Linked DNA regions of Homo sapiens: region 2 is linked to region 1. The links come from fine-mapping of genetic effects on gene expression. A gene starts in region 1. The other region holds a variant in brackets. All regions are shown on one strand. Distances are from middle to middle. Region 1 holds the start of PRCD (photoreceptor disc component). Region 2 overlaps SEC14L1 (SEC14 like lipid binding 1).

The links.
Region 2: its variant is fine-mapped to the expression of PRCD in ileum (GTEx, PIP 0.90).

What each region holds. Positions count from the first base shown.
Region 1 is chr17:76,537,632-76,542,816 of GRCh38, forward strand. It overlaps PRCD (photoreceptor disc component), which reads left to right and starts at 2,413. Exons shown (of 5, transcript NM_001077620.3): 1 at 2,413-2,584; 2 at 2,874-2,942; 3 at 4,922-5,002. The coding sequence starts at 2,511. The coding sequence ends at 4,943. CYGB (cytoglobin) reads right to left here and starts at 78. Exons shown (of 4, transcript NM_134268.5): 1 at 1-78.
Region 2 is chr17:77,144,200-77,149,384 of GRCh38, forward strand. The region is part of intron 3 of SEC14L1 (SEC14 like lipid binding 1); the gene reads left to right. Among named protein-coding and RNA genes, the nearest start is that of SEC14L1, 5.8 kb to the left of the region's middle. The variant A/C (reference allele first, on the strand shown) is at 2,514.

The DNA of each region.
Region 1 (5,185 bases):
GCTGCGTGCGCGGCGGGCGGGCGAGGGGTAGAGCGCGGAGGGAGGGAGCGTGTGTCTGTGCGCGCCGGGTGTGTGTGTGTGTGTGCGTGCGTGTGTGCAGGGTATATGTGCGGGGGGCGGGGGACAGCCAGCGGTGGGGCGGGGATGTGGTCTGCTGGAAAATGTTTAAAAAAACAAATCCGCTCCAAACCCCCAGCCCCGTGTGGGTAAGAGCCAATGCCGGCAAGGTGAAGGCTGCGCGGGGTGGGGGCGACGCGACTGCCGCCCGCCCACCCGCAGGCCACGGCGGAGTTGCACCGCGGGGCGGGGCTCGGGTAGGTGTGGCCGGGGCGCTGGGGGTCCCGGGAGGAATGGGCGGTCACGCGGCGCTGGGCGGCGCGGGCCGCACAGGAGTGCGCTGGGGCGGGCGCGGGCCGGGAGCGCTGGGTTCCGGGTCCCAGTGCTTGCGGCGTCGCGAGTGTGCGCGTGCGGACCCTTCCCGCGGCGGGGAACTGACTCAAAGTCCAACACTCCCGAGCTTTCGCGGCGAGGCCGACCGCCAGCCCGCCCGTGGGGGCGAACAGGAGCCCCTCCGGCGGCCGCCGTGGACCTAGCTGGGCTCCCCTCGCCCGGGCCTCTCCCCGCGCCCCCGAGCCAGCCGCTGGGGGCCGCGGCGCCACTCCCACGGCTCTGGACGCCCAGGCTCTGGGGGGTTAGCACGGGGGTCGTCCCCCTGCCCGCCCACCGCCCCGGCTGTCGGAACTTGAGCGCACCTCCGACCTCGGGCGCCAGAGGCCTGCGCCCCCTCTCCTTCCGCCCAGCACCTCCATGCCCTCGGTGCACGAACGCGGCGGCGGCGGCCAGAAGTCCCCCGTGGCTTATGAATGACACGGACAGGCAAGAACCAGCCGCTGCCCTGAATTCTAGCCCAGCTGGTGGCGGAGGAAGTCCAGAGAGGCACCGGATAGGGCAGACAGGACCTGGCAGACAAAAAGTCTTGAGGAAGGCGCAGGCTGCTGGGGACATCTCAGCCGCCACCAAGGGCCCGATTCCGGGCCTGGGGGAGGCAAATCCTTCCTCCTGGTGGGCCCTATCCAGGGCAGTGTGAGATTGGGCCAGAGGTGGGGGGAGAATCCCATGGTGCCTGCCCTGCAGCGGCTGCTCAGTCCTGGGGACAGCCTGAGGCCAGACAGGGCCTGGCAGTGTTGGGAAGAGATGTCACTCAGGCTCCCGGCGACCCCTGTCCTCGCTCAAGACTTGATGTCCCATTGCCCAAGCATTGCTAAGGGTTGGCTCTGCGCTTTCACTATGGTTCATGTATTTATTCTTAAAATCCGACTTTAAGGTCCGGGGGAGGCGAGGAGAACTCACCCTGGCCAGCCTCAGCTGCAGCCTGGGCCCCTCCTGGGAGCTCAGGGTTCAGGTGCCTGGGGGACCCTGAGGCAGTGCCTCTGACACTGTCTCCCCCTTGTTGAGGGAATGAAAATCTAATGCCTCCTGGGGGTCTTGGAGGGGCTGGAGGGGAGCGGGTGGGTTCAGGTTCTCACACCACTCCCAGACCCATGTCTCAGCGTGGCCATGGCTGGCTCCATGCTCCACACACACACTGAACAGCTTCTCAAAGTTGGTGTGACCAAGTGGCTGCCCAACAGGTCCCCTTGGGATGTGGAAAGAAAATAGGAGAAATCGTGTAACTATTTCTTTTCATCTCATCCTTTGCAAATGTAATATAGTCGTATGGTGTAGGAATGAATCTGTACAGTAGTCTAGCATATAATTTGTAAGTGGCTGCACCTGTCTATTTTGTGAGTGCACACTTGAATTCTGCCTTTTACTGAAGAGGGCGTGTAATCAGAAAAGTTTGGAGAGGATTGTCCAGAGGGTAAAACTGCCAGCCCTTCACTGTTGAGTCTCCCGTCTCTCTGGCTTCATTATCCAATATTCCTCCCCTTTCTTCCTCCTCTCCTGATGCTTCCACGGTGACATCATTGCTTCACCTCCATTCACCTTGCAGTTACTGGCAGATGCTCCATGCTTTCATGTCAGTAGCTTCGGCAGCGTCTTCTGTCTGAGGGCTCATCCTGCCTTGTGCACTGCAAATTCAGAGGCCCTTGCTCCTCTTTAAACGTTGCCCTGATGCCTGCAACTCTGAAAGTGCCCTGTAGGCGCCTTGAATAACTCCTGGGTCACTCTACTGCAGTCATTGTACTTGACAGCACATTTGTTTAGAGTGGCAGCTCCTTGCAAGCAAGGCCCAGTCTCATCAGATCGAGACTCCGAATACGTGCTCAATGCCACAGTGCATGCCTTGACCCTACCGCTGGAGGGGAGAACCTGGGCCCAGTGAGCTTAATCAGTCCTCACAAGGTCGGGGCCGCTGACCCACTAATCAGCTTGAGCCTCCTAATCCATCCCCAGCAGGAACCGCAGGACAGACGGCAGTGGCTCCTGAGAGCTGGCTGGGGCCATTTTGGCCCCTCGCCTGTGGCCTTCTGCAGACTTGGCCTGGGAGGGGATGGGGCAGCTGCGCCATGTGCACCACCCTTTTCCTGCTCAGCACCCTGGCCATGCTCTGGCGCCGCCGATTTGCCAACCGAGTCCAACCGTGAGAAACTGACCGGGCTATGGCTGGCGGTTGGTCGGGGGGGGGGGGCATGGGGCTGGGCTGCCACCAAGCTGAAGGTGGGCAGGGGCTGCGTGAACCTTCAGCGGGGCTGGGAGGGCATTTTGAGGAACCCTTGAGAGAGCACAGTCTCAGAGCAGGGGGACTTAGAGCTTCAAAGGCTCTAGTTGCAGCCTCTACTCCCATAGCCCAATGCGGCCTGGACCTGTGGAGGGACAGTGAGGGGCTGGGCACAGCCATAGCTCTTCCTCCCTACTCTTGCCTCCCACAGAGAGCCCAGCGACGTGGATGGGGCAGCTAGGGGCAGCAGCTTGGATGCGGACCCTCAGTCCTCAGGCAGGTAAGGCAGGAGTCTGGGCTGGGGGAGGGAGGGTGCTGCCAAGGAAGCTGTGGCTGTGCATGCCTGGGGGTGCACGTGTGTGCCTGTGCGCGCCTGTGCGTGCACCGTATCCTGGCCCTTGCCCTAAGCACCCTGCTCCCTGTCCGCCTGCTGGGCAGGCTGGATGTCTGTTTTCTGCGGTTGGGAATGGGAACCCTCAGCTCGCTCCTCTGGACCAAAGCCGCTGTGCCTCTCATCTCCAGCACGGGGCGGTCCCCCGGGGCACCTTCTGTCAGAAGGCACAGGGGAGTGGAAGGAGGGATGAGGCAGGAGTAGCTCTGTGTGGCTTTGCTCGCCTTTCCTTGCCCTTCCCCCTCCTCCTCCTCTGCCCCCGCCCTGCCTCAGCTAGGCTGCCTGAGCCTCCAGCAGGATTCGCTGTCCAGTCCCCAATAGAAGGCGCGGGAGGAGCATGACATCATCAGCATAGAGTGCCATTGGCTGGGCAGACCCTGCGGGCAGGACGCTGTCTCCAGTGGCCAGAAAGTTAACTCTTCCCTAGGCTGGAGCCATGTGGTCTTTAGGGGGTGAAGTTGGGGGAACTTCCAGACTTTTCCTTCCCTGGGTGACCAGTGTCGTTCGATGATAGGGGCGCCTATCCCAACCAAACACTGGAAAAAATCAGCAAATCTTTATGAAGTTCCCATGCATGAGGGGTTCCTTCTGTGCCTATGGACTCACCTAGCGTGGGAGACCTGTCTGAAGAGTGACTTTTTTGCTCCCAGTGAAACAAAGAGTAAAAAAGATCCGATGACATCTTTGGGTCAGGGCGCACTGGCAGGAGGGTGTCTCCACACAGGGAAGACTCAGGTGGCGGGTACTGTGACCATCCATGTCTCTTTCTGAGTGGGGACCTGCCAGCAATGTGTCCCTTAGATATGCGGAAACTGGCAACCGAGAGAACTTCCGTCTTTCTGTCTCCTGTCGTCTGAGTCCTGGGATTCTGAGTCCTGAGATTCTGATGATCAGAAGGCCCAATGGGAAGCCCTGGGCCTGTACAGGAAGCGGAGGCATTTCTGCGACACCTCAACTCGATAGGCCAGCTGGCATCATCATAATAGTGCCTAATTGATATCACTAGTTAAATCAGCTACAATGACCACCCCTGGGCCTCCCCCGATAGGAGGCCCTCAAATGCTGGGTGGTCCACGCTATTGAGCCCGGGTCTAGAGTTGGGCAGGGAGAATTTAAATTCTGGCTTCCCTCTTACTAATGGAAAGACTATGGGGGAAATTTATGCAATCAGTTTATTTATATGTAAACTAGGATTAATAACAGTGGTTGTGAGGTTTTGGTGAGGGTGCAGAGTGATTGCTCCATAAATGCTAGCAGCTGTCTTGTTTCATGCTCGGGACCTGTGCTTTAGTTTTCTCCAGAGGTTTCCTACCTATTAAGTCACTCGGGAGGCTCAGTAACCCCAGAGGATTGGCAGGACATGTGTTTTTAATCTTTGGTTAATGGTTGTGGAAACTGAGGGACAGGGAGATTTAGGTGGCTTGCTCCAGATCATCTATCTCATTTGTGGCTAATGCGGGATGCTCAGGCCCGATTCCAGGCAGGGTCTCTTCTACATGAAATGGGCCTGGACCTCCTGGCAGGAGAGAAAAGGCCAAATCTGAGGACCATCTGGCCAGGCCTGGCCTGGCGTGACTTAGCCAGAAGGAAGCAGTTGCCTATTAACTCCTTGGGACCCAGTTAACTGGAAAAATTGGTCTGACATCGAGGAACCACCTGCCGATGGTGGCTGCCGTGGAAGGCTGGCAGTGGGGGTGACATTTCTACTCTCCAGTCACACTGTCCTAAATGCCAACTGATTCCTTAGGTGGTCCTGCCCCTCAATATTGGGGTGAATTGATAGGGATGGGAGGAGGAGGAAGAGGAGAGTCAGAAACATGGGAAGGTCGTGCCCTTCAATCCTGACCCCAGTGCTTTCCTCTGTTTAGGGAGAAAGAACCTCTGAAGTAAGCCCTCACCTCTGCAGGTGGGGCTCAGGCCCAGAGACTGGGATCAGCTGGCTCAGGCAGGTAGGGCAGGGCTGGGAGCCGGGGAGGGCAGAGGGCAAGGCTTGGGACAGGCAGGAAGCAACAGGCAAGTCCCGGCCATGTGGGAGGATAGCAGGCAGTGTTCAGCTCTTGCCACTGATGGAGGTTCAAAGTAGGCGGATGGACTCATGCCTTTGGCTGCTACCTTGAGCCTGTTGTGGTCCG
Region 2 (5,185 bases), 610 kb after region 1:
GATTACCGTAGGGTATTTCTTCTTTTCCTTTCTCTTTTGTGTTATTATTAAGATATAACATACATACCAGAAAATATAATACAGACAGGAGAATGTGTCTTTCATGAGCACACACCTGATGAAAACGTGTGTCACACTCAGCACACCTGGGATACTGGCACCAAGGTCAGGAACCAGAACATGGCAACCCAGGAAGAAGTCTCCCCTGGTTCAAGTGAGCCACTGTTTTGACTCCTAATACACAGAGGACTGTTACCTGTTTCTGTTCCTTCTATAAATAGAAACGCAGGTGTTTTAGCAGCTGGCTGCTTCTGCTCAGCGTATGTTTGTGGGATTTATATAGATCAATAGTTTTGAAAAACAAGAAGTCCTCTTACGGGAAGAATTTACATGACAGGGTTTGTTTTAAAATTTATTTTATTTATTTTTTTGAGACAGCGTCTCACTCTGTCACTCAGGCTGGATTGTAGTGGCGCGATCTCAGCTCACTGCAACCTCCATCTCCTGGGTTCAAGCGATTCTTCTGCCTCAGCCTCCCAAATAGCTGGGATTACAGACCTGCACTACCATGCCCGCTAATTTTTGTATTTTTAGTAGAGATGGGGTTTCTCTATGTTGGCCAGGCTGGTCTCGAACTCCTGACCTCAGGTGATCCACCCGCCTTGGTCTCCCAGAGTGCTGGGATTACAGGCGTGAGCCACCTCTCCTGGTCTATTTTTATTTTTATTTTTTGAGACGGAGTTTTGCTCTCGTCCAGGCTGGAGTGCAGTGACGCGATCTTGGCTTACTGCAGCCTCTGCCTCCTGAGTTCAAGCGATTCTGCATCAGCCTCCCGAATAGCTGCGATTACAGGTGCCTGCCCCCGCACCTGGCTAATTTGTGTGTGTGTGTGTGTATGTATGTGTGTGTGTGTGTGTGTGTGTGTGTGTGTGTGTGTATATATACACATATATATTTGTTTTGTTTTGTTTTTTAGTAGAGATGGGGTTTCTCCATGTTGGCCAGGCTGGTCTTGAACTTCTGCCCTCAGGTGATCCTCCTGCCTTGGCCTTCCAAAGTGCTGGGATTACAGGTGTGAGCCACTGTACTTGAGATATAATTTACATACAGTGAAATGGTCACGTGTCAGGTGTACAGTTTGATTAGTTTTAACAAAAGAATCCCTCACACCTTTGTGAAAACACAGGACATTTGAATCCATCCCCCTGGTGAAGGTTCTGTGGTGCGCCTTCCCTTTCAGGTGTGAGGTTTTGGTTTGTGTGTGTGGGTAAGAAGCTCTGTGTGTTAAGATGTCTGTGTGTTAAGAAGTTACGTGTGTTAAGATGTAGTTACACATCTTAAATATGTGTAGCTAGGGCTGTTAACAGTATTTTATGTTGTTGACTTACCATGTTTGCCATTTGCATGTTATCTGTGCTGTTTTGGCTTTTGGTTGTATGAGGCAAAGACCCACTCCAGCCAGCTTGGGAAGGAGTTTGGTGAGTGGGAACATGTATAGTGTGATAGGAATCACACAGGAATCCGGGAATTCGAGCTGGGATGGGCTGAGCTCCAGAGCCTGGTAGTGGAGGGAGGTTCCTGGCTGCTCTGGGGGCCTCAGCCACAGTTTTTCTCTAGGATTTTGCCCTGTGGGACTGTGCCTGGCTCCATGTGCTGGAGCCTTCTACCCCGCCACCAGCTGGCTGCTTTGCTCACTCCTAGTTTTCCATGTGGCTTCAGCTCGAGGACGTGCTTAGCTGTCTGAAAGCCCTCTGGCCCCAGTTCAACTCTGTGGCATTTCTTGTTGCATTCTTTCAGTTTCTAAGTGACCAATTCCTGTCACATTTCATAGTTCACATCCTTGAGAGAAACTTGATCTAGTTCATTCCCCACCCCGACCCCTGCCCTGGTCCTGGGTTTGAGGATATTGGCTAGCCTGTGGATTGTTTGCCTTAGGTGGGAGGCCTGACCCTTGTTCAGTGAGCTGGGCTGGTGGAGCTGGGGAGGAGGCAGTGGGGGTGGTAGGCAGTGGGCATCGCCAGGTAAAGTAGAGTGGCTGCCCACGGCCCGGGGTGGACACAGGGCAGAGAGTTGGGCAGGGTGGGGGATGTTCTCCAAAACACTTGAGTGTGGCTTAAAAAGTTCATGCAACCCTGATAGTTTGAGGCAAAGGCTGGTTTCTTTGCCAAACGTTAGATTTAATAAAAGAGGAGGTGTTTGGATTGTTTAACGTTCAGACTTCCTTATTTCCCTTACTTCACTATTTTCAAAATTGTGACGTTTACCTTGCCAGTTCATGCAGGACTTTACAGAAGAACTCGAAATTCAAATTCTGAGCTGCCACCAAGTTTTTACAATTAAACCATTTTAAAACTATTGTTCTGAGGTAGTGGTTAATTTCCCTTCTTTTTCTTTCTTTCTTCTCCTTTTTTTTCTTTTTTTTATGATTTAAAACTTACTAGTTAGAAACTTTTTTTTTTGCCTCACCAGCTTCAGGAAATTTTCTTTTGAATTGTTAGAAAAACAAACAAACA[A/C]ACACACAGACGCACACACACGCACGTATATTCTTCCACCCTGTAGTATAAAGAAAACATTTTTAAATCCGAAAATGAAATATGTTACCTTTTTCCTTCCAAAAGTAGACTGTGAGTGATGTTTGTGTGGTGTCCTTTGCCCCCATTTCTTACTGTAGTTTTATGGTATAAAATCCTCAGTATTTGCTTAATTTTTTTTGTCATTGAGGAAAACTAACAGTAAAATGAGTTAACCTGAAAATGCCCTTTTCAGTTCAGCATTCAGAGTGAGGAAAGAGGTATATATGCAGTTAAGGTGAGAACGGAACCGTAGCTTCCGCCGGCGGACTTGTGAGCACGTCAGAAAGCGAATGTGCCTCACTAGAACGCACGGTGGCGGCAGGAGTGGCCGGCAGTGCCCGGCACGCAGTCACGGGAGGTGGGTCGAGTCCTGGTTTATGTGAGTCCTGTGAGGTGAGAGAGTGGGAGAAAACGCCTCACTCAACTTAATGCCTTTGTTTGTTTGTTTTAACCAAGAGTTTACTTGTAATTTAGTATTGCCGGAAAATTGTTCAGGTAAAAAGTGCCTAGTATAAATAGGTACACAGTCAGGTCAGATATGTTAATTGCATCTCACTTGATTTAATGAAAATTTACCATTTGTTTTGAGGTCAGTACCATTAAAAAAAAAACATGTTAAAGTTCTCATTAACTCGCTTGAGTGGTATTTACATAAGCAAAATTGAAGTGGAGGTTTTTCAGTAGGCATTTGCATGGTGTTGTTTTGTTAGATATCAGCCCAGAAACAGAATGTCAGAGCTTTCAGCGAGTTGGAGCAATCACCTAGCTCAACCCTCCCTTGGAGGGCGGGGAATCTGAGACTCCGAGGTGGTGAAACTTACACAGGTAGTGCCGAGATCTGATTCTCGAGTTTAGTGTTCTTTTCTCATACTATGCTTCTTCCTTCTACCCAGGGATGTGTACCTGAAACATTTTATGAAAGAGAAATCAAAACTTCTTGGCCACACACAAACGAAAGCCTCACACCTGACAAGGAAGGCGCACCAGGGAACCTTCTGGGGGGATGGTTGCAGATGTCCTGTGTTTTGACAAAGGTGTGGGGGACTCATTTTTTAAATTGAGTTATAATTTACATACAATGAAGTGGTCACATGTCAGGTGTACAGTTTGATCAGTTTTAACCAAAGGGCTGCTCTTCCTGGCTTGCGGGGAGGAGAAATTAATCAGTGAAGGACACTGATTGATTGTGCCTTAAAGGGTTTAAGATCTCACGGGAGCATAGTGATATGATCCCACAGATTAGGAACTTAGAATGGGATGTATAATTCTAGGGTGCTTGAGTTGAAGTGTTTCTTTTTGAAATTTCTAAGATAAAGCACAAACTTTAAAAGTTAAACATTGTCAAGTGCATCTCCCCCTCCCCCTGCATGTTAATGGTTCCTTAATAAAGGCTTCAAAGGGAAAATGAAGGAGGCGGGAGGCCACCTAGTGTAGGAGGGCAGGGTGGGAGAGGTCAAGGTCAGGAGCCCTTAAGGAGAGTTGTGGGAGAGAGGGAAGAACATGAGAGGCCACCTTCTGAACCCGATTTTTGTGGTGACAGCCGCAGGCGAGATAGTGGCTTGGACTCTGGTCTTTCTTCTGCTGAGGACAGCTGTCCTCATTGTGACCAGTGGGAACACACGATAGAAGAGGCTCCATTAGCTCCTGTGCATCCCAGGAGTTGCCACCCTGTCCAGTGCCGTTTCTGTCTGGGCTTATTTCCATTACACAGCAGATGTGGTCACCTCATTCTTTGCTCTCTCCTTTCCTCGCCCTCATCCCAGTTTCACTGTGCCCTAGGAGTGCTGGCTTTCTCCAGGAACCCCTTCAGTGTCTCTGTCCCTTCAGCAGACACACCCTTTAGACTGTGCCTTCAGGAACCAAGGCACCTGGTTCTGTCCCTGTCTGTCCCAGCACTGCCATCGTTGCAGCGTAAGCCCCTCCCTTTGCAGGGAAAGACCAGGGGTCCCTTGTTCCTTTGCGCACTCACATCTTTCATCCCTTAGGTCACTTTGTGCTCCCCTGCCACACACTTTCCATTGTGTGTGTCCTGTGTTGAAGGCTTTCCTGTTATCCGTCCTCGCACGTCTCAGCTCCTGTGCTTTTTTCGGCAAGGCCATTTGTGGCTGTGTTCTGCCTGGTCCGTTTAACCTTATTTCATAATTATGCACACTTCCCAGCTTGAACTTGAACATTTGTTTCTGTCTTGTTCCCGTTGGCCCGGACACACAGTGCTGTTTCCTGCCCCCTCTTTTCTTTTTTCTTTTCAGACTTCTTTGCCTCAGATGTTTGCCATTCCCCATCTGTCTCTCCAGATCTTACCCATCTTGTCCTTCCACACGTCCCCGATGCCTCTGAAGATGCCATTCATGTTTCTCTCCCTTCCCCGGGACACATTCTTAATGTTGGAGTTGGTGTTAGGTACTTTCACTTGCAATGGGAGTTTCTTTATTCACAAAGCCTCTTGAGTGTTGCTCTCATACTATTTTGTGTGTCCTTCCAGGGCAGTGACCTTGACAGTTATTTGTCTTGTTCTCCCAAGCGCGGGTGCTAAGGACATAGTCTGTGGGCATGCAGATGTGTGTGACTTGTTCACACGAACTGTGAGGATGAGGACTTGGTGAATGGTGGAA